Linked DNA regions of Homo sapiens: regions 1, 2 and 4 are each linked to region 3. The links come from fine-mapping of genetic effects on gene expression. A gene starts in region 3. Each other region holds a variant in brackets. All regions are shown on one strand. Distances are between the middles of the regions. Region 1 overlaps CDKL4 (cyclin dependent kinase like 4). Region 2 overlaps CDKL4 (cyclin dependent kinase like 4). Region 3 holds the start of SOS1 (SOS Ras/Rac guanine nucleotide exchange factor 1). Region 4 overlaps CDKL4 (cyclin dependent kinase like 4).

The links. PIP is the estimated chance that this variant, and not a neighbour inherited with it, causes the effect. A credible set is the group of variants that fine-mapping cannot tell apart.
Region 1: its variant is the best candidate, but not a certain one, in a credible set for the expression of SOS1 in naive CD8 T cells (Schmiedel 2018, PIP 0.88).
Region 2: its variant is the best candidate, but not a certain one, in a credible set for the expression of SOS1 in testis (GTEx, PIP 0.60).
Region 4: its variant is the best candidate, but not a certain one, in a credible set for the expression of SOS1 in whole blood (INTERVAL, PIP 0.84).

Annotation. Positions count from the first base shown.
Region 1 is chr2:39,194,635-39,202,588 of GRCh38, forward strand. The region is part of intron 5 of CDKL4 (cyclin dependent kinase like 4); the gene reads right to left. Among named protein-coding and RNA genes, the nearest start is that of CDKL4, 45 kb to the right of the region's middle. The variant T/TAA (reference allele first, on the strand shown) is at 3,626.
Region 2 is chr2:39,217,972-39,225,925 of GRCh38, forward strand. CDKL4 (cyclin dependent kinase like 4) reads right to left here. Exons shown (of 10, transcript NM_001397900.1): 3 at 7,868-7,954. Among named protein-coding and RNA genes, the nearest start is that of CDKL4, 22 kb to the right of the region's middle. RefSeq lists an enhancer at 1,783-2,284. The variant G/C (reference allele first, on the strand shown) is at 2,885.
Region 3 is chr2:39,116,377-39,124,330 of GRCh38, forward strand. It overlaps SOS1 (SOS Ras/Rac guanine nucleotide exchange factor 1), which reads right to left and starts at 4,675. Exons shown (of 23, transcript NM_005633.4): 1 at 3,960-4,675. The coding sequence starts at 4,046. RefSeq lists enhancers at 3,545-3,624, 7,472-7,641, 7,672-7,821 and a silencer at 3,825-4,544.
Region 4 is chr2:39,209,197-39,217,150 of GRCh38, forward strand. CDKL4 (cyclin dependent kinase like 4) reads right to left here. Exons shown (of 10, transcript NM_001397900.1): 4 at 4,204-4,276. Among named protein-coding and RNA genes, the nearest start is that of CDKL4, 31 kb to the right of the region's middle. RefSeq lists a silencer at 338-538. The variant G/C (reference allele first, on the strand shown) is at 4,390.

The sequences.
Region 1 (7,954 bases), 78 kb after region 3:
TCTATTCAGAGCTTTTGTGGTTCTCTTTTAAACCAATTTATATAAGCTCTTATCTATCAACCTATTACCAATTTTGAAATATTCTCTCCTTTGGTTATTGACTTTAAAATTTTTATCTCTCTGTGTATATCTATATATCTATATATAGGAGGAGCTTAAATTTATTTTGTGGTAAAATACACATAATATAAAATTTACCATTTAACCATTTAAGAGTGTGCAATTCAGTGGCATGAAGTACATTCGGTGTTGCACAATCATCACCACTATGCACCTCCAAAGTTTTTTCCATCATCCCAGCCTGAAACTCTGTATCCTTTAAACAACAACTCCCCATTCTCCCTTCCCCCAGCCCTGATAACCACTATTCTTTTTTGTCTCCATGAATTTGACTATTCTAGGTAGAGCACGTAAATAGAATCATACGATATTTGTCCTTTTCTGTCTGTCTTATTTCACTCAGCTTAGTGTCTTCAAGGTGCATCCATGTCATAGCATATATCAGAATTTCATTTCTTTTTGAGTAAGATTTCATTATATGTATATACCACATTTTGTTTATCCACTCATCCTTGATGGACATTTGGGTTGTTTCCACCTTTTGTCATTGTGAATAATCCTACTATAAGCATTGGCATACAAATATCTTCAAGTCCCTGCTGCCAATTTTTTTGGGTATGTACCTAGAAGTGGAATTGCTGCATCATACAGTGATTCTATGTTTAATTTTTTGAAGAGCTGCCATACTGCTTTCCACAGCAGTTGCACCATTGTACTTTCCCACTAGCAATGAATGAGGGCTCTAATTTCTTCATATCTTTACCAACACTTGTTATTTTGTTCTGTGTGTTTTTTAAAAATAATAGTCATCCTAATGGGTGCAAAGTGGTATCTAACTGTGGTTTTGATTTGCATATCCCTAATGATTACCATAAGCATCTTTCATGTGCTTATTGGCCATTCGTATAGCTTCTTTTTTACTTTTTATTTTTTACATTTTTAATTAATTTTTTTTTTTTTTTTTTTGAGACAGGGTCTCACTTTGTCGCCTGGGCTGGAGTGTAGTGGTGCAGTCTTGGCTCACTGCAACCTCTGTCTCCTGGGTTCAACTGACTCTCATGCCTCAGACTCCTGAGTTAGCTGGGATTACTGGTTTGAGCCACTGCGCCCTGCCTTATATATCTTCTTTAAAGAAATGTCTATTCTGATGGCTTCTGAGGAAAATGGTTGATAGGAGGCAGGACTAACTTGCAGCTATGACTCAGACGGACAGAGCAGCGTGTGGAGACTTACATCATGAACTTTTGCTCCAAGAACTACCACAGGAACATACCAGGTAAGCCAAGAGAATCCACAGACCCTTTGAAGAAGGTGGATTACCACTGCAGGCTCTGTGGGACAGCCAAGGAGCTCTGAAGACAAAAGCCATATTCTCCTGGGAGCTCTATGGCCCCACCCACTGCCTGATCCACCCTATGCTACCGCAGCTGATGTGCTCTTGAGAGCACCAGCTCCTGGCTGGAGGTCAACCAACATAAAACTAGTGCGCATAACAAAAATACAACCAAGTCAACCAACATAAAACCAGTGTGCTTAACAAAAATACAACCAAGGACCCTCATAGAGTCCACTTCACTCCCCTGCTACCTCTACCAGAGCAGGTGCTGGTATCCATAGCTGAAAGATCTGACAATGGATCACATCACGGGACTCTTTGCAGACACTTCCTAGTACCAGCCCAGAGCCTGGTAGCTTCTCTGGGTGGCTAGATCCAGAAGAGAAATAACAATCAATGCAGTTTGGCTCTGAGGAAGCCCCATCCCTAGGGGAAAGGGGAGAGCACCACATCAAGGAAGCACCCCATGGGACAAAAGAATCTGAACAGCAGCCCTCAAGTCCCAGATCTTCCCTCTGACATAGTCTACCCAAATGAGAAGGAACCAGAAAAACAATCCAGTAACATGATGACAAAATAAGGTTCTTTTTTTTTTGAGACGGAGTCTTGCTCTGTCACCTAGGCTGGAGTGCAGTGGTGTGATCTTGGCTCACTGCAACCTCTGCTTCCTGGGTACAAGTGATTCTCCTGCCTCAGCCTCCCAAGTAGCTGGGACTACACGTACGTGCTGCCACGCCCGGCTAATTTTTGAATTTTTAGTACAGACAAGGTTTAGCCATGTTGGCCAGGCTGGTCTCGAACTCCTGACCTCAGGTATCTGCCCACCTTGGCCTCCCAAAGTGTTGGGATTACAGGCGTAAGCCACTGTGCCTGGCCCAAAACAAGGTTCTTTAACACTTCCAAAAGATCACACTAACTCACCAGCAATGGATCCAAGCCAGGAGAAAAATCTCTGAATTGGCAGAAAAAGAATTCAGAAGGTCAACTATTAAGCCAATCAAGGAGGCACCAGAGAAAGATGAAGTCCAACCTAAAGAAATAAAAAAATGATACAGGATATGAATGGAAAAATCTCCAGTGAAACAGAGAGCATAAATAAAAAAACAGTCACAACTTCTGGAAATCAAGGACACACTTAGAGAAATGCAAAATGCACTAGAAAGTCTCAGCAACAGAACTGCACAAGTTCAAGAAAGAACTTCAGCGCTTGAAGACCAGACTTTCAAATTAACCCAATCTGTCAAAGACAAAGAAAAAAAGAATTAAAAAAATGAACAAAGCCTCCAAGAAGTTTGGTATTATGTTTAACGATGAAACCTAAGAATAATTGGTGTTCCCAAGGAAAAAGAGAAATCTAAAAGTTTGGAAAACATATTTGAGGGAATAATTGAGGAAAACTTCCCCGGCCTTGCTAGAGATCTAGACATCCAAATACAAGAAGCCATCCAAATCCCAAGAACATCAGGGAAATTCATTGCAAAAAGATCATCGCCTAGGCACATAGGCATCAGGTTATCTAAAATCAAGACAAAGGAAAGAATATTAAGGACTCTGAGGCAAAAGCATCAGGTACTATAAAGGAAAACCTATCAGATTAACAGCAGATTTCTCAGTAGAAACCCTACAAGCTAGAGGGGATTGAGGTCCTATCTTTAGCCTCCTTAAACAAAACAATTATCAGCCAAGAATTTTGTATCTAGTGAAACTAAGCTTCATAAATTAAGGAAAGATACAGTCTTTTTCAGACAAACAAATGCTGAGAGAATTTGCCAATGCCAAGCCAGCACTATAGGAACTGTTAAAAGGAGCTCTAAATCTTGAAACAAATATTTGAAATACACCAAAATAGAATCTCCTTAAAGCATAAATCTCACAGGACCTATAAAACAGCAACACAATGAAAAAAACCCAGGGTATTCAGGTAACAAGTAGCATGATGAATAGTACCTCACATCTCAATACTGATGTTGGATGTAAATGGCTTAAATGGTCCACTTAAAAGATACAGAATGGCAGAGTAGATAAAAATTCACCAACCAAGTATCTGCTGTCTTTATGAGACCCACCTGACACATAAGGACTCACATAAGCTTAAAGTAAAGTGGGGGGAAAGGGTATTCCATGCCAGTGGACACCAAAAGTGAGCAGGAATAGCTATTCTCATATCAGACAAAACAGACTTTAAAGCAACAGCAGTTAAAAAAGACAAAGAGGGACATTATATAATGA[T/TAA]AAAAAAAAAAAAACTAGTCCAACAGGTAAATATCACAATCCTAAATATATACGCACCTAACATTGGAGCTTCCATATTTATAAAACAATTACTATTAGACCTAAGAAATGAGATAGTAACACAATAATAGTGGAGGACTTCAACACTCCACTGACAACACTAGACAGGTCATCAAGACAGAAAGTCAACAAAGAAACAATGGACTTAAACTATATCCTACAACAAATGGACTTAACAGATATTTACAGAACTTTCTACACCATAAATGCAGAATATACATTCTGTTCATCAACACATGGAACATCTGCCAAGATAGACCATATAATAGGCCACAAAATAAAAAAATTTAAGAAAATTGAAATTATAGCAAGAACTCTCACAGATCACAGTGGAATAGAATTGGAAATCAACTCCAAAAGGAATTCTCAAAACCATGCAAATACATGGAAATTAAATGACCTGCTCCTGAATGATTGTTCAGTCAACAATGAAACCAAGATGGAAACTTAAAAATTCTTTGAACTGAACAATAATAGTGACACAACCTATCAAAACCTCTGGGATACAGCAAAGGCAATGCCAAGAGGAAAGTTTATAGCATTAAATGCCTACATCAAAAAGTCTGAAAGAGCACAAATAGACAATCTAAGGTCACATTTCAAGGAGCTAGAGAAAGAGGAAAAAAACAAACGTAAACCCAGCAGAAGAAAAGAAATAACCAAGATCAGAGCAGAAGTAAATGATATTGAAACAACAAAAAAAACCCACAAAAGATAAATGAAACACAAATCTGGTTCTTTGAAAAGATAAATAAAATTGATAGGCCATTAGCAAGATTAACCAATAAAAGAAGAGAGAAGATCAAACTAAGCTCAATTAGAAATGAAACAGGAGATATTATAACTGATACCACAGAAATACAAAAGATCACTCAAGGCTCCTATGAATACCTTTACGTGCATAAACTAGAAAACCTAGAGGAGGATGGATAAATTCCTGGAAATATGCAACTCTCCTAGATTAAACCAGGAAGAAATAGAACCTCTGAACAGACCAATAAGAAGCAGCGAGATTGAAATGATAATTAAAAAGTTACCAATGAAAAAAAGTCCAAGACCAGAGAGATTCACAGCTAAATTCTATCAGACATTCAAAGAAAAATTGGTACTAATCCTATTGACACTATTCCAAAAGACAGAGAAAGGGAATCCTCTCTAAATCACTCTATGAAGACAGTATCACCCTAATAACAAAACCAGAAAAGGACATAACAAAAAAAGAAAACTACAGACCAATGTCCTTGATGAACATAGATGCAAAAATCCTCAACAAAATACTAGCTAACCAAATCCAACAGCATGTCAAAAAGATAATCCACCATGATCAAGTGGATTTCATACCAGGGATGCAGGGATGGTTTAACATCTGCAATCAATAAATGCGATACACCACATAAACATAATTAAAAACAAAAATCACAAGGTCATCTCAATAGATGCAGAAAAAGCACTTGACAAAATTCAGCATTGCTTTATGATGAAAACCCTCAGAAAAATCAGCACAGAAGGGACATATCTTAAGGTAATAAAAACCATTGATGACAAACCCACAGTCAACATTATACTGAATAGGGAAAAGTTGAAAGCATTTCCCCTGAGAACTGGAACAAGACAAGGATGCCCACTTTCACCACTTCTATTCAACATAGTACTGGAAGTCCTAGCTAGAGCAATCAGACAAGAGAAAAAAATAAAGGGCATCTAAATTGGTAAAGAGGAAGTCAAACTTTTGCTGTTGGCTGATGACATGATCATATATCTAGAAAACCCTAAAGACTCCTTCAAAAAGCTCCTAGAACTGGTAAATGAATTCAGCAAAATTTTAGGATAACAAAATTAATGTACATAAATCAGTAGCCCCGCTATATACCAACAACAACCAAGCTGAGAATCAAACCAAGAACTCAACCCCTTTTACAATAGCTGCAAAAAAATAAAATACTTAGGAATATACTTAACCAAGGAGGTGAAAGACCTCTACAAGGAAAACTACAAAACATTGCTGAAAGAAATCATAGATGACACAAACAAATGGAAACACATCCTATGCTCATGGATGGGTAGAATCAATATTGTGAAGACGACCATACTGCCAAAAGCAACCTACAAATCCAATGCAATTCCCATCAAAATACCCCCATCATTCTTCACAGAACTTGAAAAAACAATCCTAAAATTCATATAGAACCAAAAAAAGAGCCCACTAGCCAGAGCAAGACTAAGCAAAAAGAACAAATCTGGAGGGATTATCCTACCTGACTTCAAACTATACTATAAGGCCATAGTCATCAAAGCAGTATGGTATTGGTATAAAAACAGGCATATAGACCAATGGAACAGAATAGAGAAACCAGAAATAAAGCCAAATACTTATAGTCAAATGATCTTTGACAAAGCAAACAAAAACATAAAGTGATGAATGGACACCTTATTAAACAAATGGTGCTGGTATAATTGGCAAGCCACATGTAGAAGAATGAAACTGGATCCTCACCTCTCACCTTATACAAAAATCATCTCAAGATGGATCAAAGACTTCAATCTAAGACCTGAAACCATAAAAATTCTAGAAGATAACACTGGCTTAGGCAAAGACTTCTCATGACCAAGAACCCAAAAGCAAATGCAACAAAAACAAAGATAAATAGATGGAACTTAAACTAAAAAAGCTTCTGCACAGCAAAAGAAATAATCAGCAGAGTAAACAGACAACCCACAGTGTGGGAGAAAATCTTCACAATCTATACATCCAACAGAGGACTAATATCCAGAATCTACAAGCAACTCAAATCAGCAAGAAAAAACAAACAATCCCATCAAAAAGTGGGCTAAGGACATGAATAGACATTCTCAAAAGAAGATATACAAATGGCTAACAAAAACATGAAAAAAATGCTCAACATCACTAATTATCAGGGAAACGCAAATCAAAACCATAATGTGATACCACTTTACTCCTGCAAGAATGGCTATAACCAAAAAAATAAAAAAAAAAAAACTACAGATGTTGGCATGGATGTGGTGAAAAGGGAACACTTTTACACTCTGGAGGGAATCTAAATTAATACAACCACTATGAAAAACAGTGTGGAGATTCCTTAAAGAACTAAAAGTAGATCTACCATTTGATCCAGCAGCCCCACTCCTGGGTATCTACCGAGAGGAAAAGAAGTCATTATATAAAAAATATATTTGCACACGCATGTTTACAGCAGCACATTTGCAATTGAAAAAATATGGAACCAGCCCAAATGTCCATCAATCAACAAGTAGATAAAGAAAATGTGGTATATATATACCGCAGAATACTACTTAGTCATACAAAGGAACAAAATAATGGCATTTGCAGCAACCTGGATGGAACTGGAGACCATTATTCTAACCATTATTCTAACCATTATTCCTGAAATAACTCAGGAATAGAAAACCAAACATCTATGTTCCAATAAGTGGGAGCTAAGCTATGAGGACACAAAGGCATAAGAATAATACAATGGACTTTGGGGACTCAGCCGAAAGGGTCGGGCGGCGGGTGAGGGATAAAAGACTACACATTGGGCACAGTGTACACTGCTCAGGTGGTGGGGGAACCAAAATTCCAGAAATCACCACCAAAGAACTTATTCACATAGCCAGGTGTGGTGGCTAACACATGTAATCCCAGCACTTTGGGAGGCCGAGGCAGGCAGATGACTTGAGCTCAGGAGTTCAAGACAAGCCTGGCCAACATTGCAAAAACTCATCTCTACTAAAAATTTAAAAATTAGCTGGGTGTGGTGGCGGGTTCCTGAAGTCACAGCTACTTGGGAGGCTGAGGCAGGAGAATTGCTTGAACCCAGGAAGTGGAGTTTGCGGTGAGCCGAGATCACACCGCTGCACTCCAGCCTGGGCAACAGAGCAAGACTCTGGACACTGTCTCAAACAAAACAAAACAAAACAAAACAAAACAAAACAAAACAAAACAATGAACTTTTTCAAGTAACCAAACACCACCTGTTCCCCAAAAACCTATTGAAATAAAACAACAAAAAAGAAATGTCTATTCAAGTCCTTTGCCCACTTTCAAATTAGTTTTTGTTATTGAGTCATAGTTCTGAACATTCTGGCTATTAATTCTTTATTAGGTATAAATTTACTAATATTTTCTCCCTTTCCATGGGTTGCTTTTCATTCTGTTTATAGTGTCCTTTGATGCACAGAAGTTTTTAATTTTAATGAAGTCCAATTTATCTATTTTTCCTTTTGTTGCTTGTGCTTTTGGTGTCACAT
Region 2 (7,954 bases), 100 kb after region 3:
ATCTGCCTGCCTCGGCCTCCCAAAGTGTTGGGATTACAGGCGTGAGCCACTGCGCCTGGCCCCCAAGGCTTATTTATACTTTCAATCAGGCTGTTAATAACATTTTACTTCTATTTCTATGTTTACTTCTATTTCTACTTCTATTAACAGTTTATTGTTCCTTCTACTTCCTTTTAGTTATGAGTAATTTTCTGTGTTAACTTGACTAGGTTAAGGGATGACCAGATAGCTGCTAAAACATTATTTCTGCCAGGTGCAGTGGCTCATGCCTGTAATCCCAGCACTTTGGGAGGCTGAGGCAGGAGGATTGCTTGAGCACAGGAGTTTGAGACCAGCCTGGGCCACATGGCAAGACCCTACCTCTACTCAAAGTTTAAAAATTAGCCAGACATAATGGTGAGTGTCTGTGGTCCCAGCTGCTCAGGAGACTGAGGCAGGATTTGCTTGAGTTTGGGAGTTTGAGGCTGCAGTGAGCCATGTTCAGGCCACTGCAGAGAGTGAGACAAGTGAATGAGACCTTCTCTCAAAAAACAAAAAAAACCCAAAACATCATTTGTGGGTGTGTCTGTGAGGGTGTTTCTGGAAGGGATTCACATTTGAATCAGTAGACCGCGTAAAGAAGACCCACCCACAAAGGTGAGGGCAGGCAGGCAGGCATCATCAAACCCGTTGAAGGCCTGGATACAACAAAACGGTAGGGGAAGGGCTGCTTCTCTCTCCTTGAGCTGGGACGTCCATCTTCTCCTGCCCTTGGATGTGGAAGCTCCTGGCTCTCAGGCCTTTGGACTTTGAAACTCTCTGTCCTCTGGGGCCTTAGGACTTGGCCTGAATTAGACCATCGGCTTTCCTGGTTCTCTAGCTTGCAGATGGCAGATTGTGGAACTTCTCTCCCTCCATAATCACATGAGTCAATACCAATAATAAATTTCCTGTTATCAGTACCTCTATGTATCCCACTGGTTTTGTTTCTCTGAAGAACCTTGACTAATACACCTCCTGGGCATTCTCTAACTCCACACTGTGCTTTATTTTTCTTCAAAGACTCATAACTCTTCTTTATTGTTGGACTACATCAGAATGTAAATTGCACAAGGGCAAGGACTTTCTCTTGTCCGTTATTATAGCCCCAGCACCTAGAACAGGACCTGGTACCTAATAGGAGCTCAATTAAGCTTGTTTCTCTGGCACTCCCAGAAATTTTATAAACTAAAACCCTGTGACAAATCTCTTTCTCTCTGAACTAGCTAGAGTGAATTCTGTTGTTGAATCCTGACCAATTCAGGACATGGTAAAAGAAGTGGATGTGGGAAACAATCCAAGGCTGTGAGAATCTAGGATTGGATATCTGATGTAATGAGGACGGAAGGGCAGCATCTAATTACCATTAATGGCTGGGATGCTGGCAGATGGCCACTCAGTAATGAAACAGGTACTTATTTATTTATTTATTTATTTATTTATTTTTTTGAGACAGAGTCTCGCTCTGTCACTCAGGCTGGAGTGCAATGGCATGATCTTGGCTCACTGCAACCTCTGCATTCTGGGTTCAAGCAATTCTCCTGCCTTAGCCTCCTGAGTAGGTGGGACTACAGGTGCCTGCCACCACACCTGGCTAATTTTTTGTATTTTAGTAGAAACGGGATTTCACCCTGTTGCCCAGAGTGGTCTTGAACTCCTGACCTCAAGCAATCTGCCTGCCTCGGCCTCCCAGAGTGCTGGGATTACAGGTAGGAGCCACTGTTCTTGGCCTGAAAAGGGAATTTAAATAATCACCTGAGGCCATCTGGAATAAAATGCCTATTCAAGGCAAGGCTTTGGTGAACTAAGTGTGATAGAACAATATGGGGAACATAAGTAGTAACAGACATGTGAGGTGGTCTGGTTGCTTCTAACTTCACTGGAGAAATTAAAGAAAAAAAAGCACAGGTTCAGAGCTTTAATATCTTGGTTCAAGGCACAGTTAGGACGTCAGGCATTTTGATATCGACCCTAAAAGAACCCCTTACTTCTTGTTTCTGTAGGACCCACTTCACAGATCCACTGGGATCTCCATGAGATTACTAAAACACTGACACAGACAATAACCCTGCAGGGTGCTCAATGACAACAAAGACTGAATTTATGTGAGGATAATTAGTTTCTCAGTTAATGAGATGAGAAGGAAAAATAGTCCAGGAATTGGAATGTGACACTTGAAAGTATTCATGTAACTAAGAGCACCCTAACTTCCTTCCAAACTTCTCTTCTCATAGGAAGTAGCCCCCAAACTTGTACAATAAGGCTGGTTCTGCCTTGCTGCAGACTCTCAGATCTCACCTGAGGCAGGTGCATTTTGTGGGGATGCCCGCTCTCTTCAAGCCTCCTCTCCCCACCTCCCCTCAAGGTCTCCAAACCTTAACTAAAGTCAGATCCCAGCATGACCCAGGGGGCCTATAACAAAGTGAAACAGAGGAAGAGGAGATTTACATAGCAAAAAGAACTACAACATTTTGCTGATTTATAACGGGGAATGTATGAAGAAATGGATTTCATGGGTGTTGGACCAGAGGGGAAGAAATATGACTTTAGATTGGGCTGATTATAACAATATGGGCACAACTTATTCGAGATTCTGGTTTTTTTTTTCTTTTTTTTGAGATGGAGTTTCGCTCTGTCGCCCAGGCTGGAGTGAAGTGGCATGGTCTGGGCTCACTGCAACCTCTGCCTCCCAGGTTCAAGCAATTCTGTCTCAGCCTCCCGAGTAGCTGGGATTACAGGCACCTGCCACCACGCCTGGCTAATTTTTTTGTATTTTTAGTAGAGACAGGGTTCCACCATGTTGGCCAGGATGGTCTTGAACTCCTGACCTCAAGTGATCTGCCCTCCTCGGCCTCCCAAAGTGCTG[G/C]GATTACAGGCATGAGCCACTGCGCCTGGCCCAACTCTTCTTTATGCTGTAATTTAGTCGTTGGGTCCCTTCATTATCTCACCATCCCATGGCTCAATCCGCATTCACTACATCGACGATCTTTTTTTTTTTTTTTTTTTTTTTTGTTTTTTTTTTTGTTTTGTTTTTGTTTTTTGAGACAGAGTCTCGCTCTTGTCGCCCAGGCTGGAGTGCAGTGGTGCCATCTCAGCTCACTGCAATCTCCGTCTCCTGGGTTCACACCATTCTCCTGCCTCAGCCTCCTAAGTAGCTGGGACTACAGGTGCCCGCCACCACGCCTGGCTAATTTTTTTGTATTTTTTAGAAGATATGGGGTTTCACTGTGTTGGCCAGGATGCTCTTGATCTCGTGACCTTGTGATCCAGCCACCTCGGCCTCCCAAAGTGCTGGGATTACAGGCGTGAGCCACTGCGCCCGTCCACATTGATGATCTTATGCCCACACACCAGTTATTTATCCTACGTGTTTCCTCTAGTAAACAATAGTCCAAAAGGCTTGGTATGTATACTAGCTGGTTGTTTATCTCTGTTTGCTATTCACTGGGCTTAGGCCTTTAAAAATACTCTCTGGCCTGTTATTTAAATAGATTTTAGGAAGGGAGTACAAGTAGATGAATGCTTTAAATTAATCATTGTTATCTAGAAGTACCCAACATTTCATAAAAGAGCAGCATATTCTAGATTGTTCCTATTTGCATTACTCCATGCATAATAGATTGAAGTCTCAGGGCTGACGCAACGCACTACTGAACACCAGCAGTGCTAAGCACATTTGTAAAACTTAAGAGTGCAAAGTGGGATAGTTCAGAGGTCCCTGGCATTGCAAAACACATATTCAACAGAGGAGTTGCTTGAACATGCCTTGCTCTTTCTTGTGTCTCTGCATTCCGCCAGGGGTGTCCATCTGGCCAACTCCTCTTCCTTTTCAAAGCCCAAATGCTGCCTTCTCTGCAGAATCTCCCTCACTTCCCGGGGTCAACAGATGTTGGAGTTGCTTCTCTTGTGCATCCCTTGCATCAACATTAACCCAATCAACATAACCATTTGTAGTTGTTACTTTGAATATCTGTCTCTTCATCACATTTTAAGCTTCTTGAGGGCAGGACTGTATCATTATAACTGTATCCTCTGCACCAGTGTAAAATGCTCCATGAAATATTTTTTGAGCGAAAGAATGCTAGGCATAAGGAAGCCATTAAGATCAATGAGACATGAAGTATGCCCTCAAAAAACTTATACTCTAGTGAGAGAGAGTATGCACATAAAAACATATACGGTATAAATACCAAGTACCACAACAGGGATGAAAATAAAATTCAATGGGGATTCAAAGGAAGGAAGAAATTCCATCCAGATGAAGGAAACTTAGAGATGTTACAAATATCTAGGATTTCACATTTTAAAGATTATGATAGGCCAGGTGTGGGGACTCATGCCTGTAATCCTAGCACTTTGGGAGGCTGAGGCAGGTGGATCACCTGAGGTTAGGAGTTCGAGAGCAGCCTGGCTAACATGGCAAAACCCTGTGTCTACTAAAAATACAAAAATTAGCCGGGCATGGTAGCGGGTCCCTGTAGTCCCAGGTATTTGGGAGGCTGAGGTGGGAGGACAGCTTGAGCCCAGGAGGTAGAGGCTGCAGTGAGCCGAGATCGCCCCACTGCACTCCAGCCTGGGCGACAGTGTGAGACTCTGTCTCTAAATAAATAAATAAATAAATAAATATTATGATAGAGACAGTGAAGGTGAAAAAGGCTAGAACCTTCTAGATTAAAATGAGAAGAACATGAGCTAAGTCTATAGACAGGAAAGCTTAGGATACAAGTAGGGAAGAGAAAGATGTTCAAGTCAAGCAAACTGGTGTATGCATTGAATGTTTTATAATAGTTTCAGGGCCTTGAACAATACATGAAGTAAGCATAAATTTCTAACTTCATGAAAATGTATGTTAATTTATAAATTAATTTATAGAATGGCTGAACATATCTGTCTTCTAAGTCAACATACAACATCCTATTTAGTGCAGGATAAAGTTTAACTATGAATTAATATGCCATTTTAATTGTTTTTATATTAATTTTTATTTTAAAAGTAATATATGTGCATTCACAGAAATTTGAGAAAATTTGAGAAAACTCAAATTTTCAATTATACTTAACATTCTAGTATGTTATCTCATTTTTTCATATATCATCCCAGGAACATTTCCCCAGGACATTAACTATTGTTCTAAAGCATGCTCTCTAATGGGCTGGCTGCATATTGTACTATTGTATGGATGGATATACCAAAATGCCTGTAACCAATTATTTACTGTTGGAAAATTAGGGGAGTCCAATATTTTTGTTATAAATAATGACGTATTGAACATTCATATGTATAACTTTTGCCCTCATCTGATTATTTTCTTACTATAAATTTCTCTAAATGGAATCTCTTGATCAAAGGATGAAAACAGTTAAAATTTTTTCATACATATTGCCAAATTGCCCTCCTAATGGCACTCTCTCTAGCCATCAATGAGGAGGTCTGATTCCCTGACTGTTGATAAGACTGGGTATAATAATTTTTGAAAAATCTTTGCCAAATTTAACAGATGAGAAATGGTACCTTGCTAAAAAGTTTTGAATTTCCTTGATTAATAGGGAAGGATAAGCATGTTTTCTTAGATGTACTGGTCATTTCCTTCTCTTTTTTTTTTTTTTTGAAGACTTCTGTCTTCAAAAAAAAAAAAAAAAGAGAGATGGGGTCTCACTCTGTTACCCAGGTTAGAGTGCAGTGGCATGATCTCTGCTCACTGCAGCCTTCACCTCTTGAGCTCAAGTGATCCTCCTACCTCAGCCTCCCAACTAGCTGGGACAACAGGCTAGGTTAATTTTTGTAGTTTTTGTAGAGATGGGTTTCACCATGTTGGCCAGGCTGGTCTTGAACTCCCAAGCTCAGCTGATCCACCTGCCTCAGCCTCCCAAAGGGCTGGGATTACAGGCATGAGCCACTGCACCCAGCCTCCTTCTCTTTTTTAATGATTTGCTTCCCATGTTCACTGGAAGGTAAGGTGAGGCTCCTTTTCTGTGTGTGCTCTGTTCAATGCTGTAGACTTAGCACTGGCTGGGTGCACAGTCTACATTTATGAAAGTTTTTTTTGAATAAATATATTTATTAATTGGATGTTAACCTTTTAAAAAATGTTATTTGTAAAATCTGCATAGGTAGACATAAAATTTATTCATTCTGGCAAATAGTTTACCCAATATCTCATTTCTATTTTAGTTTTGTTTATGGTACTTTTTTGTCAAAGGGAGTCTCTTAAACTACTGTGATTTAATATTTGACAGTTAAAAGTCCCTTTTTTCTCGATTTAGTCTTTTTCAAATTTCAAAAAATACCCTATTGGTATTCTGATTAGAATTTTGTTTAATAAACAGATAAACTGTAGAGGCAATATTTTTATAATCATGAATATTTCCATTTAGAAACATGTTCATTTAAATAAAATCCTTACATATCTCAGTTTTGTAGTTGTCTTCATGCAGAGTCAGAACAACTCTTTATCTTTATTCCTAAACTTTTGTTGTTGTTAATATTTGAATGGGATCCTTCTCCACTAATTTTTTTTTTTTTTTTTTTTCTTGAGACAGAGTCTTGTTCTGTCACCAAGGCTGGAGTGCAGTGGTGTGATCTCGGCTCACTGCATCCTCCGCCTCCTGGGTTGAAGCAATCATCGTGCCTCAGCCTCCCGAGTAGCTGGGACTACAGGCACCCACAACCACACCCAGGTAATTTTTATCTTTTTAGTAGAGACAGGGGTTCACCATGTTGGCCAGGCTTGTCTAGAACACGTGAGTTCAAGTGATCCACCTGCCTCAGCCTCCCAAAGGCATGAGACACTGCACCCAGCCATTCTCTGTTAGATTTTCTAAAGTGTTGTTTGATACAAATGCTGTTAATTTTTGCATGTGGAATCTGTCGTGTTATAGGGGTCGCTGTACTGAATTCCACTGGTTTTAATAACTCTTTAGGTGGTTCTCTTAGATTTTGTAGATCAGTAATATCTTGCAAATAATGACAATTTTATTTCATTTCCAAAAGCTATGTTTTGTTTTTCTTATTACATTACATTGGCTAGAGTTCTCAGAACAACGTTGCATTATAGTGGTGACAGCTGACATCCTTGTCTTGTTTCCTCACTTTAATGAAAGTTCTTTTAGTTTTACCATTGAGTATAACATTGGCAGTTGATTTGAAGAGGGGTGTGTGTGCCAACACTTTGGGAGGCCGAGGCAGGTGGATCATGAGGTCAGGAGTTCAAGACCAGCCTGGCCAAGATGGTGAAACCCCGTCTCTACTAAAAATACAAAAATTAGCCGGGCATGGTGGTGTGTGCCTGTAATCCCAGCTACTCGGGAGGCAGAGGCAGAGGCAGAGAACTGCTTGAACCCAGGAGGTGGAGGTTGCAGTGAGCTGAGATCGCGCCACTGCACTCCAGTCTGGGCAACAAAGTAAGACTCCATCTCAAAAAAAAAAAACTATTCTTTTAATCCTAGATGCTAGGGATTAAAAAAAAATCAGGAAAGGATGTTGAATTTATCAACATTTCAAATTTTCAAATTTATCAATCGTACATTTTTTTATCTTATTAGTGAATTATATGAATAGGTTTCCTAGTATCAAACCATGGTTCATTCCTTGAACTCAGATAATCCAATACATAATTTAGCCTCAAATTCATTTTGATTTTATATCTGTGGTAGGTTTTTCTCCTAATTATAACTCCTATAGGTAAATCATTGTTTGCCTTTTGAAGACATCCTGAGACTGGATGGGGTAGCCAGATGCATTGTGGTAGAAAGGGGAATTGTGGCTGGGATTTGAAATTTGCCATGGTTAATTCCACAGAAAATGAAACTGAGAACTGGCTGTACAGAATTTCAGTTTCCAGATTACTTACCCATTTGGGTTTCTTTCCAGCTCATTTAAAAGTGTATGATCACAGTATTCAAAAACTAAATGCATTTTCCTTTTTCTCCTGAACACC
Region 3 (7,954 bases):
TTTCAAATAAAATCCACATCCATATTTCCATCCTTGTTCAAATGCACCCTTAGTTCAAATGTGTATTATCTCTTGACTGGACTATTAAACTAGGCTTCTAACTTTTCTCCTCACTTTACGTCTCATTCTTCTCCAAACCATTTTCCATTCTATGGCCAAAGTGAATTTTCTAAAATTAAAATGTGCTGTTACTCCCCTACTTAAAACTTATTGGCTGGGCACAGTGGCTCACCCTGTAATCCTAGCACTTTGGGAAGCTGAGGCAGGCAGATGGCTTGAGCCCAGGAGTTCAAGACCAGCCTGGTGAAACCCCATCTCTACAAAAAATACAAAAATTATCTGGATGTGGCAGTGTGCCTACAGTCTCAGGAGGCTGAGGTGGGAGGATAGCTTAAGCCCAGGAGGTGGAGGCTGCAGTGAGCCAAGATCGCACCACTGCACTCCAGCCTGTTAAGACTCTGTCTCAAAACAAACAAACAAAACAAAAACAAACAAAAGAAACTTTATCAATGGCTTCTAATTACCCAAGAAAAAATTTAAATTCCTTAGCTTAACATATATAAAAACTGTTCATAAACCAGTTGTCTCTCCAGACATGCCCTGCCACTTCCCATCATGTTCTAATTTAGTCTTTTCTGATTATGTCATTTACTTTTTTTTTTTTTTTTTGAGACAGAGTTTTGCTCTTGTTGCCCAGGTTGGAGTGCAGTGGTGCAATCTCGCCCCACTGCAACCTCCGTCTTCCGGTTTCAAGCTATTCTCCTGCCTCAGCCTCCCGAGTAGCTGGGATTACAGGTGCCCACCACCACGCCAGGCTAATTTTTGTATTTTTTAGTAGAGATGGGGTTTCACCACGTTGGCCAGGCTGGTCTTGAATTCCTGACCTCGTGATCCGCCCACCTTGCTCTCCCAAAGTGCTGGATTACAGGCGTGAGCCACTGCGCCCGGCCCTGTCATTTACCTTTTTAGCCTGAGTGTCAAGGGCAATACCTGGTCTATAGTAGGCATGATATATTTGTGCAATAGATAAGATAGGACTTAGACTCATAGATGCGGTGAAACAGATACAGTGGGACATTCCAGCCATATTCAGGAAAAGTAGCAGTCCGGACTGGCTAAAGCAAAAAGGAGATAAAAGGTTATGGTAGACAATCCAGTCAGAAAAGCAGGATGAAGCCAAATATCAATTGCTGTTAATTCTATGCTAAAAAGTGCACTTTAGCATAGGTTGAACTCAAAAGACATCAACAATTCTGAGTGTGACATGTTCAGAAGTGTCCTATAACTGGTGAGATTTGAAAAACAGAAGGTGAGGTGGGGGCCAGTGAACCCCATTAAGAAGTTATCACAGTAGTCTGACAAAGGAGACTCAATTAGAGAAGTCGGAGGAGGAATAGACTAGAAGAACATGTCAAAGGGAAATGAACATACAGGCTCTACCTGAGTGTGCACAGTAATACAAAGAAGCCAGAGATGACCCCAACATTTTAAACCAGTCAAATGTAACAATAAAGCCATTAATCGAGAAGAAAAACTGAAATGACAGGTGGAGGAGAGAAGTGATAGTTTTAGTTTGTATATCCCCTCACCTATTTATTCAAATTGAGTGCCTACCAGATGTCAAGCACTATAAGTATGGGGAATAAAATGTGGGTAAGATATCATCCCTGTTCTCAAGGAGCATCCAATCTAGTTATAGGCAAGTAAATAGGAACTTAAAATTCACAGAGCTAGGACAGGGTGCAAAAAGAAAACAAAGGAGTAATATCCAACTCAGCCCTGATGATTTGACAGTTCAGGTTGAGTGAGTCTAGAAGGATGAGTAGTGTTGGACCAGGCAAAGAAGGATGAAGGGACTAGCATATCCAAAGAGCCTCAGGTAAGAGTAAGAGAACACAAGTCGGATGTATCTACGAATAATTCAATAACAAATCAAAGGAAGAAATCAAGATATGGAGATATCCACATGAAATGTCCAGCAGGCAAGTAAAAACGTAGGTTTTGAGCTACCAACAGCATATCCAGATATGAAACATACTGTATTTTCAATCTTGTTTAGAATCATTGTTAGTGGCTATTTAAATAAGAATTGGAAGAACCTTACATATCAGCTAGATTATGTACACTTCCACCTCCTCCTATCACTTCTACTGCAAAAGTATCTCTAACTTAAAGTCAAAAGCTGTTTTATGTAAATATGCAAAAAGGACAAGTGGGGGCTGTGGTAAGGTGGAGATACATGACCTGTCTAAAGAAGGGAGCCATTTACTCAACTCCAGCAGTTTAGTGCCTCGCTTGAATACAGGCCCTAAATGACAAGACCTTCCTATTCTTCAAGAAAAGCCGAAAATTCAGGTTTTATGTAATATCTCCCATTTTCAAATATTAGCAACTAATTACATTTAAAAATAAAACAACACTATGCCAGCCAAACAAAATGCTTTTGTGGACAGATTTCAGCAAGGGCCACCAGTGTGGCAGAATTAAACAACGTCTGTCAACTCCTACAATATTCTTTCCACTGCTTCAAAGGATCCTCAGCTGATACCTTGGTGATTCCCCTGGGAAAGGAGCTGCTTTTGCCTCTAAGCAAAATGGCCCCTATTTGGCAATGCTTTATGAGTTCCTTTACACGTTTTTAAACAATTTCCGTGTCTCCCCTTACTCTATCCGGACACCAGCTTCTAGCATCACAGAGACCTCCTACACCCCTTCCATTACAAGCTAAGAAGTCAAACTTGCAAGTAAAGCAAAAGTAAGGAGTGAGAGCCTGAAGGGATTTCTAAGGAGTAAAGTATGTAAGATATATGGCATCTTTTCTTCTGTTTTTTAAAAAAAATTACATAGATGTTTGTGACTAGTCAGACACTTGAAGGGGAAAATGTCCGTAATTTAAGCCAGAAATATATGAGCAAATTCTCCTGAAAAACCAAATAGTTTCCACTGTAAGACAGCAAGAGGGACCGGAGGAGAACAGGGCAAAAGGGAAAGTAAAAGTTACTGGCCTTTGAGAAATATCAGACACCTTTTAATGTTTAGCATAAAAGGTAAAACATAATCTCCATTCTTAGTAGAAGCAGTTAGCATGAAACATTCTTTGAGCAGCAAGAAACTGGGATTTAGAAACACTATTAGAAGAGTAAAGCAATCTTTACAGAAAAGGTAAATGAAGAAAAGAAAACAAAAATAGTCTGGTTGTCACACTGCTGCTTTAGAAGCTTTAAAAACGTAAGAACACTTCCTAATTATACTAAAACATTTAAAAGCACAGATCGGGGGTATGTAACTTCAGGTAACAATGTAGCAAACTTAAACATACAAAGGCTAAAAATTCTTAACAAGCCAAATGACAGCACCAAGAATCTCGAACGCTGCAAAAACAAAACAAAACCCCCCTGAAATTGGTAGCATGTGCACCAGCCCCTGTTAATCGGAGGAGCGGGGGAAACCAGGAGAATGAGGAGTGAATACTGACGGCGAGCAGAGCAGGCCACGTTCCTACTGGCAGGCGAGCTCGCAATTCCTTTGAGCAAGCCTTACGGCCAGGGCATTCTCAAGCCACTAAAACCAGCGTACTGGACACCTAAAACGGTAGGCTGACAGCAGCTCCGGGCTAAGACCAAGAAGACGGAAAAGTGGCCTGCTTTGACCTCCGCTGAAAACTGAGGCTCCTCCAACTGTTGTTGTCCTGGAATCAAAGGGCAAAGCATTCACCTCTCAGGGGTTGGATTATCCGGATAAACTCCCCCCGGCTCCCTGCGGCATTCCCACACACCCGGTGGATGTCAACACCGAGAGCCAGCCGTATGAGGGGGGCCTCTCCGTGTGCGCCGTCCTTTTGGAGACGCGGCGAGACCGGGAAGAAAGACGGCCCTGCGCGCGCCCCGCCTCCCCAGCCCTTCCCCAGCGCCCGCGCTGGGGGGCTGCGGCCGGGAAGCGGGGTCCCGCGTGCTCCTCACCTTTTTCAGCGCAGGCACCAGTAGTCCCCGCCACTTGGGCGCGTTCTCTTCGCTGAAAAACTCGTAGGGCAGCTGCTGCGCCTGCATGGTGCCCCCGGGGCGCCTCTGGGCGGGGAGAGGGGCGGCGGCGGCCGGGCCAGGGAGCCGCGAGAGGGCGAGCTCGCAGCGCGGAACAGGGCCGCGGCCCCACCGGACGGCCCGGCCCCCTCCGGGCGCCGCGCAGCCGGGCTAGCCCTGGCGAGGGGGCTGGGGGGCGAGGCCCGCGCCTGGCCACCCACCCGACACAGGTACCAGCCGTGGAGAACGGACGCGGCCCGGAGGCGGCGGCATCCCGCACCACCGCCCCGGGGCCAGGCCCCCCGCCCCTCCCCGGCCCGCCGGCGCCGCCCCGGGCTGCCCTCTGCCGCGGCCGCCGCCCGCCCGCCGGGGCTGCACTCCCGGGCCCGGTCTGGCCCCGCGGCGGAGCTGGCGGCTGGGGGAGGACGTGTGGAGGGACGCTCCGGCCGCGGCGCCCGCTCCGCGTAGTTGGGACTCCGAAACGCAAGAGCCCCGGGCGGGGCGGAGCTGGGGCGGAGGTCTCGCGGGGAAGGGGAAGGACCGGAGGTCGTTGTTGGGGAATCTGGCTGCCCTGAGGTGCCGCCGCGGCCGCCGCCGCCACCGCCGCCGCCGGTGTAGCGCTGGAGCTTCCTACTAGCGAACTGAACCTGCTCGCTACTGAGCATGCGCTGCCGTGCTGGGCTGGTTCGCTCCGGGTTTTCCGGCTCCCGGTGAAGGAGGAGGAAAGCTCGAGAGAGAAAGAGAGAGAGAGACAGGGAGGGCGCCCGGCCGGGCTGTGGCTGCGCTCCTGGGGGCTGCAGGGGAGGGGCGAAGGGGCCCGAGAAGTCGCACCCTGGCAAAGTGGGGCCTGCAAGGGTGGGTGATGACTAGGGTAAAGAGGCTCCCCATTGTGTGGCCTGGCCGTGAGGGCTCCCACCCTTCTCGGAGTCCCTGGGCCCTTCGTTTCGGAAAGGGGTGTGTGTACTTTGTTCCTGAACACGAAGATAAGGACTGCCCAGAGCACGCAATGTATAGTAAACAGACTGGACAAAAGACAGGTGCTCTGTCACGAAACCTACTGCTCAGTATCTGCTGAGTAGTAGAAGTGATTGCGGTGTTTCTAAGTGGTCTTTCCACAAAATAATAAAATGTGTACGTGTAGTATTGATTTTGTGTGAATGTTTTAGATTCCCTCTGTTCATCTTTTAAACCCACTCCAGAAATGAACTCCAGTAAGCACTTTCCTCCAGTGGATATCGAGACCTCTTTTACAGCTCCTAGAGCACTGCACTTATGCCCCTCTCAGGGCGTTCAGTCTATTGTGTTTTGTTATCTTTTGCGGTTCTTTCGACTAGATAATAAACTGGAAGGCAGATCTTTTTCACCAGGGCCTCTACACAGTGTAGAACAGGCACTCAGTCAATGTTAGTGGAATGCTAAAGGAGCAGTATTTATAAACTGTCCCTCCAGGCCACTGTTTGTTTATAATAGGGGCACTTTGTGGCAGACACCTTATGATTTATCATTAATTATCATTTTTTTGAGTATCATCTCATTTAATCCCCATAGCAACCCTATTATTTTCATTTCACCGATAAGAAGGCAGTTTAGAGGAACTAGCCTGGGTTAAAGCTGACATTGTGTCCTGCTATTCCTGAGAACAGTAACCAGGATCACATAAACGAGAAAGGTTCAGTGGTTCTTAATCTTTACAGGACCTCTTTGAAAATCTGGAAAAACAACTCTTAGGTTATTTCCTTTAAAAATACACAGGCCGGCCAGGCGAGGTGGCTCATGCCTGTAATCCCAGCACTTTAGGAGGCCGAGGCGGATGGATCACCTGAGGTCAGGAGTTCCAGACTAGCCTGGCCAACACTGTGAAAACCTGTCTCCATAAGAAATACAAAAATTAGCCGAGCATGGTGGTGGGCGCCTGTAATCCCAGCTACTTGGGAGGCTGAGGCAGGAGAATCGCTTGAACCCAGGAGGCAGAGGTTGCAGTGAGCCGGGATCATGCCACTGCACTCCAGCCTGGGCAACAAAACCAAAACTCCGTTTCAATTCAAAAAAAAATATACACACACACACACACACACACACACATACACACAGACCGGCCGGGCGCAGTGGCTCACGCCTGTAATCCCAGCACTTTGGGAGGCCGAGGTGGGCGGACCATTTGAGTTCAGGAGTTTGAGACCAGGCTGGCGAGACCCATCTTTATTGTTTTATTGAAAAAATAAAAATATACATACTTGGTTTACATTTGAAAAACTCCCCACTTTCAAAGTGTGTGGAATGAAAGCTGGAATTATAGGCGCCTGCCACCACACCCAGGTAATTTTTGTATTTTTATTAGAGATGGGGTTTCACTGTATTGGCCAGGCTGGTCTCGAACTCCTGACCTCGTCATCCACCCGCCTCGGCCTCCCAAAATGCTGTGATTACAAGCCTGAGCCACCGCGCCCGGTCAGCCCTCTTCAAATATTTAAAGGGTTGTGATATGGGGGAAGAGATTGGTTTGTATGGTTCCAAATGAACCAACATCAAGCCTGTACCCCAAACTATTGCTTGGCTTCCCATTGCTCTTAGAATACATTTCAAACTTCTTACCGTACCCCACAAAGGCGTGCATCTGGCTCCTGCTCACATTCTCAATGTTTTCTCACCATTCACAACCTCGCCTCACCACACTCCAGTCACAGTAGCCTTCTGTCTATTCCTAGAAAACAACAACCTGCCTAAAGAACATTGTTCTTCTCTCAGCCTAGAACCCCTAACTGTTCCCTTGGCTGGTTATAAACATCACCACCTCCAAGAGGCCTTCTCCGATCACTCCAAGTAATTCTCACCTGTGTATTTCTACCTTATGTTCTTTTTATTTCCTGCTAGCACTAAATCAAATCAGTCCTCTATTTTTGGTTGTTGGTTTCCCTCCTGCCCCCAAATAAAATGTAAACTCCTAGAGAGAGAGAAACAATCTTTTTTTTTTTTTTTTCTTTTTCTGAGACAGAGTCTCATTTTGTTGCCCAGGCTAGAATGCAGGCGGAATCTTGGCTCACTACAACCTCCACTTCCCAGGTTCAAGTGATTTTCCTGCCTCAGCTTCCCGAGTAGCTGGGACTACAGGCGCACGCCACCAAGCCCGGCCAATTTTTGTATTTTTAGTAGAGGTGGGGTTTCGCTAGGTTGGCCAGGCTGGTCTCGAACTCCTGACCTCAAGCAATCCACCCACCTCCGCCTCCCAAAGTGCTGGGACTACAGGCGTGAGCCACCGCGCCCGGCCGAGATCAACAATCTTGTGCGTTTCGTTCTTCATTGGTTTTAATCGTATCCCCGGGGCCTACAATGCCTGCACACAGTAGGTAGCAATAAATATTGTCGAAGGAATAAAATGTGCATGCAGGAAAGTTCCAGGACTACATAATCAACGTTGTTTCCAGAAAACGGGCGATTTTCGGGGTGTGCAGGTAAAAAGCGTACATTCACTCACTCGGGCTAAGAGGTTGGGCATGTTGACCTCTAAGATCCCCTTCAACTCCGAATCTCTGATTTGACTGCAGAGGAAAACAAGCCCTAGAAACATGGGTTACAGCCTGGGCTAGGCTTGCTTAGCGGCCAGGGCAGGTTTTCACTAGCATGGCCGTTTGGGCCGTAGACAGGGCGGGTAACTGGAGAGAAACTGCAGTGAAGAGACTCAGTGCTTCGCAGCGGGGAGACCTACAGGGAGTGCCAGGGTCAGCCCCGCTAAGGTCAAGGAGCACTCCATCACCCCTGTACTGCTTGCCTGTATCTCTTGGGACAAAACAAAACACCTATGTCCATTCAGCAAGAGAAGACAACCGTGCGGACTCAGAAACGTGCAGACGGGTAGGCACGTGTAGACGTAAAAGTGTCGCCCACCAATCCCCCGCGCCAGCCCCTCAGCTTTTACCGCCGACGGGTGCGCCCTGGCGCAG
Region 4 (7,954 bases), 93 kb after region 3:
AGTTCCTTGGGAGGCTAAGGTGGAAGGATTGTTTGAGCATGGGAGGCTGAGGTTGCAGTGAGCCGTGAAGGCGCCACTGCATTCTAGCCTGGGAAACAGAGCAAGATCCTGTCTCAGGAAGAAAAAAAAAAAAAAAGTCATTTTTGCCATTTTGAGATGAAGCCCCTGTTCTCTAATCAATACAGCAAATATATAAAAATCCCTGGGTTCATTATGGCGTTAAATGGACCACTTTGGTTACCTCACTCTAGTGATATTATAGGGTAAAAGAGAACCAAATGAATACGTATTTTCTTAAGTCCTGCGCTTCTCCAAATTTAATGTGCACATGAATCACCTGGAGCTCTGGTTAAAATGCAGACTCTGATTCAGCAGGTCTGTAGTGGACCTCAGATTCAACATTTCTAAAAGCTCCCAGGTGATCTCTATGAACCATAGTTGGAGTAGCAAGGCCTGAATCCCTTGGTACTTTAACCTGCAGTGTCCTGTTTAGGATCTCGACTCTGGAGATGATAAGGTGCACATGGTCTCTACAGGTTTAAAGCTGTGAGTCGTCAGCAACACCACTAGGTCAGATTGCCTTTTCTACTCTTTGAGACTATCATGGGAGTTCCTTTAAAAATAAGGAGAGTATAAAGGTTTTAGTTGTATTATTGTGACAGCTTTATATATGGCTTAGATTTTTTTCTTTGCAAGCATTTTAATTATAGATAAATAAAAAGGCAGATACACAAAGGCTTACCATAAGAAAATGAGAAGTAATTTCCATCTTGGAGGAGGGAAGTTAGTCTGAAAAATTATCTTTTTTTGAGACAGACTCTTGCTCTGTCGCCCAGGCTGGAGTACAGTGGCCCGATCTTAGCTCATTGTAACCTCTGCCTCTCGAGTTCAAGTGATTCTCCCACCTCAGCCTGCTGAGTAGTAGCTGGGATTACAGGCATGCATTGCCATGCCCGGCTAATTTTTGTATTTTTAGTAGAGACAGGGTTTCACCATGTTGGCCAGGCTGGTCTTGAACTCCTCACCTCAGGCAATCTGCCCACCTCAACCTCCCAAAGTCCTGGGATTACAGGCTTGAGCCACCACACCTAGCCTGAAAAATTACCTATTTTTAATAGAGGCCACATATTATCAGTCAGAAGTTTTCAGTGTTTTAAAGCTTAGGGTATAGAACGTGTTGTTCCAAGCACAGAAATGATGGCAGTTGCGTTGGTCTACAATAATGTTTGGCTCCACTGGAAATAGTCACAATCAGTTAGGCAGTTTGGGTTGACTGACTGATTGACTCATCCAACCATCCACCCATCCCTCCATCCAGTTATTCAATAAATATTTATTGATCACCCTGTATATAAAAATATCCAATTTAGGTATTAAAGAGATACAAAGATAAAGCAGCCACAGACATTGCATTCAAGCTTATAACCAAGTACCCAGGAAAGTGTCTGGTTATATAGGGATAAAGTATAAACACTTGTGGTAAGTGGTATTTTTAGAAATCATTTTAACTACCCATAAAACTCCTGCAGCAACTTTGATATCTCCTATAGCATGGTGGAAAGCAACAGAGATAAGGATTCCATTTGGCATCATCTTTATTAAGCATCAGAAAGCACAATTTGCATCATGAAAAATAGGTTTATGTATTTTGTGAAAAATATCCCTCTACATTAATAGAAAATAAAAGCTTTTGATTTAACCTAATAAAAACTTCACTGACTTTCCTAAAACTAAAGAAAGCTTCCCCTCCGTATTGAAATGTATTCTCATGATCTTGTACTTTCTTTTTCAGCAATCCTAGACTGCTATGATAGACATTCTGCTGGCATCAAAACTGACCATATGGTACTCTGTATCATTGCCTCAGCACTGTCTCTGTCTAGGCACCAACTCAAAAGGGCTAGATATATTTTTTTAAAAGCTATCATTGGCTGAGTGCAGTGGTTCACACCTGTAATCCTGGCACTTTGGGCAGCCAAGGCAGGAGTTTGAGGCCAGCCTGGGCAAGATAGTGAGACCCCCATCTCTACAAAAACAAAAATTGGCTGAGTGTAGTGGCATGTGCCTGTAGTCCCAGCTACTCAGGGAGGCTGAAGTGGGAGAATCACTTGAGCCCAGGAGTTTGAGGCTCAAGGGTGCTATGATAACACCACTGCACTCCAGCCTGGGCAGTAGAGCGAGACTGTCCCAAAAATATAATGATATATAGCAAAGGTACCAGGAGCCAACTTGAAGAAGCTCATGTTGGCCTAAGATGGGAAAATCTGAGCATGGGAGAGACCAATGACAGCAAAGAATTGAAAACACCACAATACAAAATTTGTGTTTATAATGGTGCTCCAGCCACCTCTCCCCAAAACTTGTCATTGTTGCTAAGATATCATCTCATCACCCTGAGTGTTGATAAATAAAAGTAACCAGAGTCCATGAGGATGAGTTCTTTTCCATACAATTCCAATTATTAAATGCAGAAGGAATAACAGAATTAGAAAATTACTGTCACGAAATACTAGATACAGGCAATAATCATCACTGGATGCTAAAACCATCAGGGAAACAACGTTGACAGGGAAAATGATAATGGAGGGGACCAAACGAATACCTCCTGAGCCCACTCATCAATTTTAACATTATCGAAAGTGGGACAAGTGGATGCTATACACCTCATAATGGGGATGCGATATGAAGTGTACAGCACCACATAGCAGGCATTGTTAACTAAAAAAAGCTGAACCTGAATATGATCAAGCCTCTAGATATAAACTCCAATTTACAGGAAATACAAGTGAAAGAACACGTTAAATTACATACAAGAAAAAGTCAGCCAAAATTATTTCTCTAACATAGTGGTTCTTGAACCAACAGCTTCAGTAGCATCTGGGAAAATATGAGAAATGCACATTCTTGGGGCCCTACCCAAGACTGACTGAATCAGAAACTCTGGGGGTGGGGCCCAGGAAGCTGTGTTTTAACAAGCCCTCCTTGTGATTTTGATGCATGCTCAAGCTTGAGAACTACGGCTATAAAAAATTAATGAATTTTTTTTTTTTTTTTTGAGACAGAGTCTCACACTGTCGCCCAGGCTGGAGTGCAGTGGCACGATCTCGGCTCACTGCAAGCTCCGCCTCCTGGGTTCACACCATTCTCCTGCCTCAGCCTCCCGAGTAGCTGGGACTACAAGCACCCGCCACCATGCCCGGCCAATTTTTTGTATTTTTAGTAGAGACAGGGTTTCACCGTGTTGGCCAGGATGGTCTCGATCTCCTGACTTCGTGATCCGCCTGCCTCGGCCTCCCAAAGTGCTGGGATTACAGGCGTGAGCCACCATGCCCGGCCGGAAACGGTTTTTAAAAAGGAAAGGAAAGGGGCACTTAGATTGCTATCGAGTAAAGGACTTAAGAGACTTAAAAATAATAGTTAAAAAAAAAAGTACCATGGGGGATTACATCAGCAATATCCTGAAAACTTACTATTATTTTTGGAGACAGGGTCTCACTCTGTTGTCCAGGCTGGAGAGCAGTGGTGTGATCTCAGCTCACTGCAACCTCTGCCTCCTGGGTTCAAGTGATTCTCCAGCTCCAGCCTCCCAGGTAGCTAGGATTACAGGTGCGCACCACCATGGCTGGCTAATTTTTATATTTTTTCATAGAGATAGAGTTTCTCCATGTTGCCCAGGCTGGTCTTGAACTCCTGAGCTCAAAGCCATCTGCCCGCATTGGCTTCCCAAAGTGCTGGGATTACAGGCATGAGCCACCATACCGGCCCTGAAAAATTATTCTCGCCCAATTTAAAAATAGTTTCAGGGGTCACTGGCACTATGGCAAAAGGAATCATTATATTTATTCAAATTTTTAATTCATAAGGAATTAGCAATTTGATTCTTACAGAAATTGGAAAGAGCCATGAATAATGCATCACTTTTTTCTCATATTTTGAACTTTCTTTTGTTATTCCCTTTTCTTCTTTTTTGCAGAGACAGGGTCTTGCTATGTTGCCCAGGCCTGTCTCAAACTCTGGGGCTCATGTGATCCTCCCACTTCAGCCTCCCAAGGTGCTGGGATTACTGGCTGAACTTCCTTTTGTTTTGCTTCTTTGGCTCTTACTTTCCCTTTGTCTTCAGCTCTCCAAACAAAACCCTGAGCTATTTAGAAGAAAAGAGTCATCATGAAGAAATGAATAAATACATTAGAAAATGTTACTTACGTTATGTATATGACAGAAATTAAGAGCTTGAAGTGTTTGCCATAATACGCTTTTGATCACTCCATCAGCAACTCTGAGGGAAAAAATAAAAAAGGAAATGAAAACTCATAGGATAGAGTTCCAGAAGCAAGGGCTGGGAATAGAAGTGGAGTGGTGAGGGACTGTCCTCTTCAAGGAACACCATGC[G/C]GAAGGGTCCTAAAAATATATTTTAGTGAAAATTGGGCTTTACTATCTTTTTATTATGGTTATGTAATTTCCTTTTGTAATTTGAATTTTTTACATCCATAAAATGATGCATGCTTATGAAGATTCAAAAAATATAGAAAAGTAAAGGAATAAAAAAAAGAAAAGGAAAGGAATAAAAAAAAGAAAAGTAAAGGAATAAAATGTGTTGGGTCAAATCTTGCTACCCCAAAATAACTGCTATAACTTCTGGTGGCTCTCTTCAGGCATCTCTGCTCCTCTCTCTCCCTGTCTCTCTCTGTACTTTTTTTGTTTTGTTTTGTTTTGTTTTGTTTTGTTTTGTTTTGTTTTTTGAGACAGGGTCTGGCTCTGTCACCCAGGCTGGAGTGCAGTGGCATGATCTCAGCTCACTGTAACTTCCTCCTCCCAGGTTCAAGAAATTTGATTCTCCTGCCTCAGCTTCCCAAGTAGCTAGGATTACAGGCACGTGCCACGATACCCGGCTAATTTTTGTATTTTTAGTAGAGACGGGGTTTTGTCATGTTGGCCAGGCTGGTCTTGAACTCTCGACCTCAGATGATCCACCTGCCTCGCCCTCCTAAAGTGCTTGGATTACAGGTGTGAGACACTATGCCCGGCCAGTATTTACTTTTTAACTTTAATTTTAAAATAAAAACATTCGTATGGTTCAAATTTTAAACATATAAAAGTATATACATGAAGTCTCTCTGACACCTGCCTAGCCACCCATTTATTTTCTTCAATTTCACCCCTGACCACTTTGAGAATTTTATGCATAGAGGTACAAATACCAACATGTACACATATATTTTAGAGGCTCCAGAGGAGATCATTATATGGATATATCATAATTTACTTAGTCTCTATTGATGAGCAGTTAAGTTCAGCCAATTTTTGTTTCTAGAAAGTCTTCAATGAATATCTGTAATCATCCATCTTATGATATTTACACAATTACCTTCTTAAGGTAAGTTCTAGAAGTGGGATTTCTGAGACCAATGGTAGGCACCCATTACATTTCGATCCTGCATGGATGAAATTCAGGTAGACCGGAGACTTGGTTTTGCAGGAAAAAAGGTATACTTGGAAGATGGCTCTTCAATTTATCTAATTCATGGTGGTAGACACTCAAGTTATTTTGTAATAGTTACTTGTCCCTGTAAGCAGATAGCCCAAAAGGCGGCCAGGGAGAATAAGGATCCCATAAGAATGAGAGGGTGTAAGCTTCTTGTCCCTGGCAGACTCATCCCTCTGTATAGAAAATACTGGGAAGTATCATGGGCAGGTGTATTTTCCACTGGGGATTGGGGGTCTGGGAAACTTACTCTGGGAGTATTCTACTTTATGTAACATCTCCATGAATTATAGCAATTACATTCTCTGTAACTTTTCTGTTGGTAGCTTTCCATCACTCACATCACTGTCCCATGATGATGCCTTCACATTTACACACTGCCAAACTACCCTTTCTGAGGAAGGTTATACCCATTTTCACTCCCACCAAACATCTGTGCATCAAAGTCCCTGTCTCCTCATTGTCTTGCCAACATTTGGTTTTGCCAATGTTATGTTTGCCAATCTGTGGTTAAAATAAAAAGATGTCTCACTGTGGTTTTTATTTGCATTTTACTAATGTTTAGTGATTATTATTTTTCACACCCTTATTGGATACTACATTTCTTCTTTTGTGTAATTCCATTTTATGCCTTTATTGCTTTTTAAATTGGTCTGTTCACTGTTTTATTATTGATTTACAAAGACTCAATGTATATCATGGTCTGTTATATATGCTGCAAATATTTTGCTCAGTGTTGTTTGTCTTTCAGCCCTGTTGATGGAGATGCGGCTGTTGTTTGTATATTTTTCAAAAATCTGAAACATAAGAGTTTCTTTTACTAAATGTCAACTGTAAGGATTTTCTTAATTTAAAAAAATTATATTATGTAATACCCCAAACATATCCATCACTCAGATTTAATATTTTATCATATTTGGATATTTAAATCATATATTTAGATCACTTTTTAAAAATTGAACATGTGCAGATGTAGCTGACTTTACAGAACAGTGGGAAGGCCTAGGCATGACTCAGTTATGACACTAGCTACAAGAGTCTGAAGTATATGCAGAGAAACAGCAAGTGATGTACACGGTATTTTCCTCAGAGCAGTTTCCTGATCTTGTACCACAATTATGGTGGCATGTCCTTGACATCAGTGGCCCAGTGGCAACCCTTGACCCCAGTTCTCCTAATTATTAATATTGCAAATGTACCTAATTTTCATGATTAAATCCCTTTCGACTTGAAGTGTCTATTTCCAGCACTGAATACTGATATAACTGTATTCTTCTCCCCACTTCACCTAGAGCCAAACCTGAAACAACATTGCGTACACTTTCAAAATATGAGGCAGGAAGAATAGTATAGCCATGTTGAGCACTGTGAGACAGGTTGCTTGAGTTCAAATCCCAGATATGCTGCTTCCTACTTTATAATCTTGAACACGTTATTTAAGCTCTCTGCACCTTCAATTTTCCTCATGTGTAATACTAGAATAATATCTTATAAGTTATTTGAGTAATCTATCCCCTCAATGTCTGGTTTTAACACCCACATGAGTTCTGGAGATACAGGTCTGAGATTAGATAAGGCCAGTCGATGGGATTGAGACCCCTGTACAAAGAGGGAAGAGGTGCAGAATAGCAAGAGGCCCTGAGGAGAGAAAGAACTGGAGGTGTGGGGAAAGCAGTATGAGGCCAGGGTGGCTGAAACTTGAGTGAAGAAGCCAGGAAGGTTGGCAGAAATCAGTCCATGGAGGGCCTCGGAGATCTAGATCTCAATAAGAAATTTGGATTTTATGCTAAATTCAAAACCATTGAAAGAAATCAAGCAAGGAAGTGACATAATATGGAGAATGGATTTCTGGGAAGGCAACATACATACAGAGAGAGAAATTAGGAGGCTAATTCAATAACCCAAGTGAGATTTGGACACTTAGATTATGGTGGCAGCAGTGAGAGGAAGGGAAATGGATTTCAGTCCTTGAGAGGGACTAGCGAGGGTGGAGTACATGCTCCTGCTGACATGGGAACAGAACGCTAGTCTGGTTGGGATCTAAGAGCCTACAGGTGCAGGAGAGTAAGTACTGGAATTGGGAAACAAGGTAGGGGCTAGGATTGAGAAACTGCAAAACGCCAATTACTAGCCTTAATAACAGGGAATGGAGAATGAAGTAATTTCATAGGAAAGTAATTTCATAGGATGTTAAAGATGACTTTAACATGAAAGAGGATGTTTAAAGGCATCTCACAGGAAGTGTCATATTCAGTTCAGTTAGCTTCCAAGAAGGCAGATTCCGTCAGGGGCAAAACAACACCACTGATCGTGCAAAGAGAAGATAGCCATCAAAGAGAACCACAAACCAACACCACAGATCGTGCAAAGAGAAGATAACCATCAAAGAGAGTACACATCGACGCGGCGCCCAGTCCAGAAAGATAGAGCGCTGCAGCACCATTCAGCCACAGGCAGCATTTTTCAAAGCAT